2 linked regions of the Homo sapiens genome follow. The protein of the gene in region 2 purifies or fractionates together with the protein of the main gene of each other region. This does not show direct contact. Each region holds a gene or a part of one and is shown on either strand. Other genes may lie near its edges.

Evidence for each region.
Region 1: the proteins of RIPK1 (region 2) and TAB1 purify together in Homo sapiens (affinity purification with mass spectrometry; 3 studies listed by BioGRID and IntAct, with this or other methods). This does not show direct contact.

What each region holds. Positions count from the first base shown.
Region 1 is NC_000022.11:39,416,780-39,420,279, forward strand, and holds part of TAB1 (TGF-beta-activated kinase 1 and MAP3K7-binding protein 1), read left to right. Parts: intron 1-11; coding exon 12-98; intron 99-931; coding exon 932-1,070; intron 1,071-1,952; coding exon 1,953-2,066; intron 2,067-2,739; coding exon 2,740-2,851; intron 2,852-3,500. UniProt on the Homo sapiens protein: Key adapter protein that plays an essential role in JNK and NF-kappa-B activation and proinflammatory cytokines production in response to stimulation with TLRs and cytokines.
Region 2 is NC_000006.12:3,106,494-3,109,993, forward strand, and holds part of RIPK1 (receptor-interacting serine/threonine-protein kinase 1), read left to right. Parts: exon of another isoform or gene 1-298; intron 299-1,308; exon of another isoform or gene 1,309-1,404; intron 1,405-2,808; exon of another isoform or gene 2,809-2,903; intron 2,904-3,500. UniProt on the Homo sapiens protein: Serine-threonine kinase which is a key regulator of TNF-mediated apoptosis, necroptosis and inflammatory pathways.

The sequences.
Region 1 (3,500 bases), on a different chromosome or scaffold from region 2:
TGTCCCCCTAGGCCTTCGATGTGGTGGAGAGGAGCTTCCTGGAGTCCATTGACGACGCCTTGGCTGAGAAGGCAAGCCTCCAGTCGCAATTGCCAGAGGTAATTTCCCCAGCCGACACCCAGGGGAGTCAAGTCCAGGCCCAGCTTTGCAAGGAGCATGGACTCATCTACTTTCTTGACATTACTGGGCCAGAGCAACAGGCGTTAGGGAGCAGTTCCTGATGGGTGACACTGGTGTGTGGCCACAGGTGAGGGACCTCGCTGCTCTGCTGTGGGCAGCTGCATGCTAAAGCTCAGCAGTGTCTGGGCAGTGGTGGACATGAGGAAGGGCTTTTCCCAGTCCTTCGTCCTGAATGGGTCCCCGCCCTTGTCAACCACCTGCTCACATCGCCTACTGCCACCTGCAGCGCTTACCTCTGTGCTGTGAGTTCGGTCATCTCCAGCTTTCTGGAAGAACCTTAGCCTGGAGCTGTAGCGAAGGCTTCATCTTGGCTGTGCCATGGACCATCTGTCTGTCTGTCCCCCGGGCCCTCGGATCTTTGCTCTTAAGAGCAAAGGGAGGCCGGGCATGGTGGCTCACGCCTGTAATCCCAGCACCTTGGGAGGCCGAGGCGGGCGGATCACAAGGTCAGGAGATCAAGACCATCCTGGCTAACATGGTGAAACCCCGTCTCTACTAAAAATACAAAAAATTAGCTGGGCGTGGTGGTGGGCGCCTTGTAGTCCCAGCTACTCTCGAGGCTGAAGCAGGAGAATGGTGTGAACCTGGGAGGCGGAGCTTGTAGTGAGCCGAGATCATGCCACTGCACTGTAGCCTGGGGGACACAGCGAGACTCCATCTCAAAAAAAAAAAAAAGAGTAAAGGGAGTGGAGAGGGCTAGGAAGATGGTCCAGAGTTCTGTCCTGCCCTGACCCTCTGTTGATGGTTGTAGGGAGTCCCTCAGCACCAGCTGCCTCCTCAGTATCAGAAGATCCTTGAGAGACTCAAGACGTTAGAGAGGGAAATTTCGGGAGGGGCCATGGCCGTTGTGGCGGTCCTTCTCAACAACAAGCTCTACGTCGCCAATGTCGGTGAGCCCCCTCCTGTCCCAGGGCAGGGAGGACTGGGGAGAGGTCAGCCACAGGGGTCGGTGCATTATTTGACAATCTGCTTTCCAGACACTTCACGCACTTTAAACCCAGGGTCTCCTGAGACCGTTGGGTATGTCCCTCTCCACAGTGACGCCTCAGTCCCAACTGGAAGGGAGAAAGGACGGGATGGGAGACAGGTGTCCTGGCCTTTAGTCCCTATTCTGCTTCTTAACTCATTCTGGACGAGTCGTATCCCATTCTGGGTGGCCTTGGGGGCCGCTGCTTCTGGAAGAGGTTACCTGGCCATGAATAACCAACCAGTATCCCCATGAACAGCTGCGAGATGGGGCTAGGTGACAGGGACATTGGGGTTTGTGAGAAGACCAGACAGGTGCAGGTTTCAGTAGAAAGGACTCTGTAGAGACCCTTCTGATGATGCTGCCTTTTTTTAATACTCCAGTGGAAAATTTTCCACAATATAGAACAATAGAGTGACTGATATTTAATGAACATTCATGCGCCCATCCCCAATCCCAGCAGTTATCAACTGTGGCCAGCCTTCTTTGTCCCCACGTTCTCTATTTTGAAGCAAATGCCAGACACTGTATCATGTTATCTGTAAATATTTCAGTCTGTATCTCTAGAGAAGAGGTCTGTTTTATTAAGATCATAATCCTATGATTACACTGAAAAAGTTAAACCCAATTCTTTCGTATCACCAGCTGTCCCTAACTGGTGACTCACCCCGTTGGTCTGAGCCTGTTTTGCCCATTTCAGGTATTTCCATGTGTGAAATGCCTGCCTTTTCCCTCTCTGCCTTCCCGGTATGCCCTATTTCTCTCTGTGTGTAGTCTTTGCTTAGCTGTTCACATTCTGCCACAGGTACAAACCGTGCACTTTTATGCAAATCGACAGTGGATGGGTTGCAGGTGACACAGCTGAACGTGGACCACACCACAGAGAACGAGGATGAGCTCTTCCGTCTTTCGCAGCTGGGTGAGTGGGGAGAGTGGGAGCGGAAGCTGATCCCCATGGGCTCACCCTTCGCCTGCCTTTGGTGGTGGGGTAGAGAGGCGTGTGGTAGAGGGGCTGTGATCTTGGGCTCCCCAGCCAGCCTGCCTGGGGTTCATTCCCAGCACTGCCGCTTACTGGTTGGTGATTGGAACTTAAGTTTTCTGTGCCTCAGATCCCCCGCTGTGTAATGAGGATAATAGTAACCTACCTCGGGATGCTAGGAGGATTCAGTTAGTGCATGTGAAATGCTTCCTGGAGTGCCTGGCACACAGAAGACACTTACTGTTATTGGTGGAGACTGAAAGAGGCCAAAGAAGTCCAGGGAGCCCAGCTGCTGCTGAGCTGCTCCTTCCCTTCCCAGTGAGCTCCAGGCAGATGTGGGGCACACGGGATGGGCAGGGAGACGGCAGGCAAGCTGCTCCGTGCCAGGTGGTGCCTGGAGGACGGGCTCTGAGTGAGGTGTGTCGTGATGGGCGTGGGGACTGAGGACACCAGGGACTTTGGGTCAGCTGCTCTCCCAGGTGCCCTGGTGTTGTCTTCATTTCCTATTCAGTGGGTCCTTATTGCCTTCTTCCCATGACTGTGTCTCTGTCCCCTTCTTTTTGTTCCTCTTTGTGAACAAGAAGCAGGATTGTTGCACTGTTTCCCTCCGTAGGCTTGGATGCTGGAAAGATCAAGCAGGTGGGGATCATCTGTGGGCAGGAGAGCACCCGGCGGATCGGGGATTACAAGGTTAAATATGGCTACACGGACATTGACCTTCTCAGGTAGGTGCCAGCCCAGCTGTCCCCTGTGCTTGAAAGAACAGAAGGTCCTAGGGAGGCCAAGATGGGAGGATTGATTGTGCTGGGAGGTCGAGGCTGCAGTGAGCCGTGATCATGCCACTGCACTCCAGCCTGGGCAACAGAGCAAGACCCTGTCTCAAAAAAAAAAAAAGGTCCAGAAGGCCTGGGGCAGACGCAGACTGTAGGCCCCAGTGACACATGTGCAGTCAAAGTAGTTCAGAGCCCAGGCAAACTCTTTCTTCCTCCCAGAGAGGTTGGTTTGGGGCAGGTTAGGCCCAGCAGGCCAGGAGTTGGGTACTGTAGAAACAAGGGGTGGAGTTGAGCTGGGCCAAAGCTGAGGGCAGCAACTAGTGCCACAAGGGAGGCAGGCGAAGCCAGAGTTGGCATGGGATGGACAGACCAGGCCTGTTGGTCGGTGCTGCCCATGGCTGCAGCAGAGGTGTGAGATGAATTGTGTATTTCCCTCTGAGGACACCTCCTCTGGACATCACCCCAGCGCTCATGGCAGCAGAATGGGCAGTCATCATCACACGGCCAAGCCCGTGCAGAGCTCTGGATGTACCTTCTTTTATGCATTCCCTACTCAGGCCCCCTGAGGCAGTCACTGCCATCACCCCAGAGGCATTTTCAT
Region 2 (3,500 bases):
TATCTCTATCAGGTGAAGTAAAAGGTAGGTGATAGTAGTTACTGGCAGTCTAGAATGGAAGTGAGTTAATGTAATATCCAGCATTTTTATCAAATAATACTCACCAACATCACCTTAACTACCTGAACAGCATCTACCAATGATACCCACAGGTGTCCTGGAGATCTTGAAATCATCTCAGGTAGAGGAAGCTTTCAGAACCACAGAGCTTAGTTACATTTTCTTTCAAAAGGCCAAATTCTCCAAAAACGTCCTATGCAAACATCCTCGATTTCTTCCATAGGTTTTATGATAAGATCTGTAGAATGCAAAATATTGGATTAGACATTAAGCAGTATCCAAGTCATGTATAATCCTATGAGCAGAATGTCCTTTTGTTTCCTTCATGTTGGGGATAAAATTTTTTATTAGTATTGCCATATCATTTTATTCATTCATGATTAAGTCAATAAAAATTTCAGCTGGGGCCATGGTTGGCCAGGTGTGGTGGCTTATGCCTGTAATCTCAGCACTTTGGGAGGCTGAGGTGAGTGGATCACTTGAGGCCAGGAGTTCGAGACCAGCCTGGCTAACATGGTAAAACCCTGTCTCTACTAAATAATACAAAAATTAGCCAGGCGTGGTGGCGCATGCCTTTAGCCCCAGCTACTAGGGAGGCTGAGGCAGGAGAATCACTTGAACCCTGGAGACAGACGTTGCAGTGAGCTGAGATCATGCCACTGCACTCCAGCCTGGGCAACAGAGTGAGATTGTGTCTCGAAAAAAAAAAAAAAATTCCACTGGCTGGGCACAGTGGCTCACGCCTGTAATTCCAGCACTTTGGGAGGCCGAGGTGGGAAGATCACGAGGTCAGGAGATTGAGACCATCCTGGCTAACACGGTGAAACCCCGTCTCTACTAAAAATACAAAAAAAAAAAAAAAAAAGCTGGGCATAGTGGCGTGCGCCTGTAATCCCAGCTACTTGGGAGGGTGAGGCAGGAGAATCACTTGAACCCGGGAGGCAGAGGTTGCAGTAAGCCGAGATTGCACCACTGCACTCCAGCCTGGGTGACAGAGCGAGACTGTCGCAAAAAAAAAAAAAAAAAAAAAAAAATTCCAAAACTCTTCCCACTTTGTGACGTGCAGTTCTCCAGGCACTGGAGCTATAACTGAACAAACAGCCTGAGTCCCTTCCCTCACACAGTTTAAATCCTAGTGGACAGAAGGCAGACCCTAAACCAATATTTAATGTGTCATTTTTTATCTTTTTTCTACATGAGCAACCCAAATACACCCGTTTAGTGCCAGAAATCTCTTTGTGTTTTCACCTCGTTCTGGTTCCTGGTTCTGCCAGTGACAGATGTACAGGGATGCAGCTTCTTCAGGGTTCTGAGATGCTTTCAGTGGGAAAGGGGCGCTTGGATCTACAATAGATAATAGAATTTTCTGTGTTTCTGCTCCCAAAGATGATCCTGCCAGGTACTAAGCTAGTAAATGAACACGCTGAGTTTCTCCTTGCAAATTTAAATAAGTCTTCTGCTTGCTTTTATCATCAAAAAGTCCTAACTCTATACCAAAATATGAGTTTTCTAATTTGCCATACCATAGAAGAAGGGTGTGTATGCAGTAAGTACAAAAGGAAAATAAATGTCTTCCTTTCAGTGAAAGAGCTCTTAGACCCACTGCTTTTTATTCACTGTGCTGCTTGAAGTGAGGTTAGAAAAGGAAAGCTCACTGGGCTAAGAGTCAGGAGACCCAGGTCTAGTCCTGCTTGTGCCGGTCACTATATGGGTGACTTTGGGAAAGTCATTTGCCTCTCCAGAGTTCATTCTCCTCAATTATAAATGAAAATGTTACAACTGAAAATTTATATATTATCAGCTCTAGTATGTTTCTAGTATTGCATTCGTTTCTCCACTTCGTAACTTTCATGGTTTTTCCAGTGGTCAGATTTGGGCAGAAAGCACTGATTCAAGAACACAGATTTCCAAGTAGAGAGGTGCAGGGTAAATAAACCTCCATGTAAGCCCGCGGTGAGCGCAGACTGTGAGTGACGAACACGGTGTCAGTGTAAGCTGGAGGTGGTGGGCCAGGAGGATTAAACAGGGTAAGGCAGCTTACCACTGTGCCTGGCGATGCGCAGAGTAAGTGCTCAGTAAACGGTAGCTGCTGTTATTAGCACTGTTATTATCATTGTCAGCAAAGAACACCTAGACAGCCTTGAGCACTGGAAGGCACCTCAGAGACTGTCACAGGGGTTCCTTGCTAGGATTCCAAGGACCCCAGTTTCAGCAGCTTCACGAACACCCTGAATTGCACACAGATGGCGTGTGTGTGCACATCCTATATTTCTTACACCTTTCAGTAGAGAGGGTCCCTAGTTTCCTTGGCTTCCTCAGAGAAAATGTAACAAATGAGCACAGTGCCTGGTCCAGAGGGTGGCCTACCTTAGGGCCAGGTGTGCTGACGGAGGTACCTTGAGCTGATACTCATTTCCCTCCCTCCTCAGAACTGTCTTCTCAACCACCTTCTCTCTCCTACAAAGATATGCCAAGTGCTCTTTAGGGACAGTACCAACACTTGACAAATTCAGCTCAGCATGAATGTCATTGAGCCCATGCCCCGTACCAAGGCCCAGGCTAGCGAGTGTAAGGAGTACAAAAACAAGTGGGTGTGGTCGCTGCCCTTGGGACTCACATTCTAGTGGAGAAGTCAAACAGACCCAGCTCAGATACAGAGCGGCGCAGGGCAGAGTGCTGAGTCTAGGATTACAGTGCAGGCTCATGGAAGGAGGTGGAATTTGTGCTGGGCCTATGTCAGAAACTCACAAGCAGGGAGAAGCACGTGGGGAGGTCAGCAGTCCAGGCAGAGGCAGGAGCATCATGTCAGCAGATCGGTGGGAAATCTGGTGGGACTGGAGTCTCTGGAGTGGAGACAGGGAGGAAACAGTGAAAGGAAGATCAGAGACAAGAGGGTAGGGCAGAGCTGTGGCTAGCTTCTGAATACTGAACCTGAGAGGTTTGAGTTTATCAGGTAAAGGAGGAGGACCCTTCACAGATGCTGTTCAGAGTCGTGGGATCCCGCTGGGAAGTGTGGCTGAGCTTTGCTGTGTTGTTCATCCACTTCTGTTTTCTGACTTGGTGTTAGCCACATTTTTTTATGGTAAAATTCAAAAACATAAAATTTACCATTTCAACCATTTTTACAGTGGCATTATCTAACATTCACAGTGTTATGCAACCATCACCACCATCTATCTATATAACTGTTTTAATCTTGCAAAACTAAAACTCTGTATCCATTAAACACCAACTCCCCAGCTCCCCTCCCAGCCCCGGACAACCACCATTCTACTCTCTGTTTCTGTGACTCTGACCAGTCTAGGTACCTCATGTGAGTGGAACCATGCAGCATTTTTCTTTGTGGCTGGCTTCATTCACTTAGGAAATGTCCTCAAGCTTCATGCATGTTGTAGCATGTGATGTGATTCCCTTCCTTTTCAAGGCTGACTATTCCATTG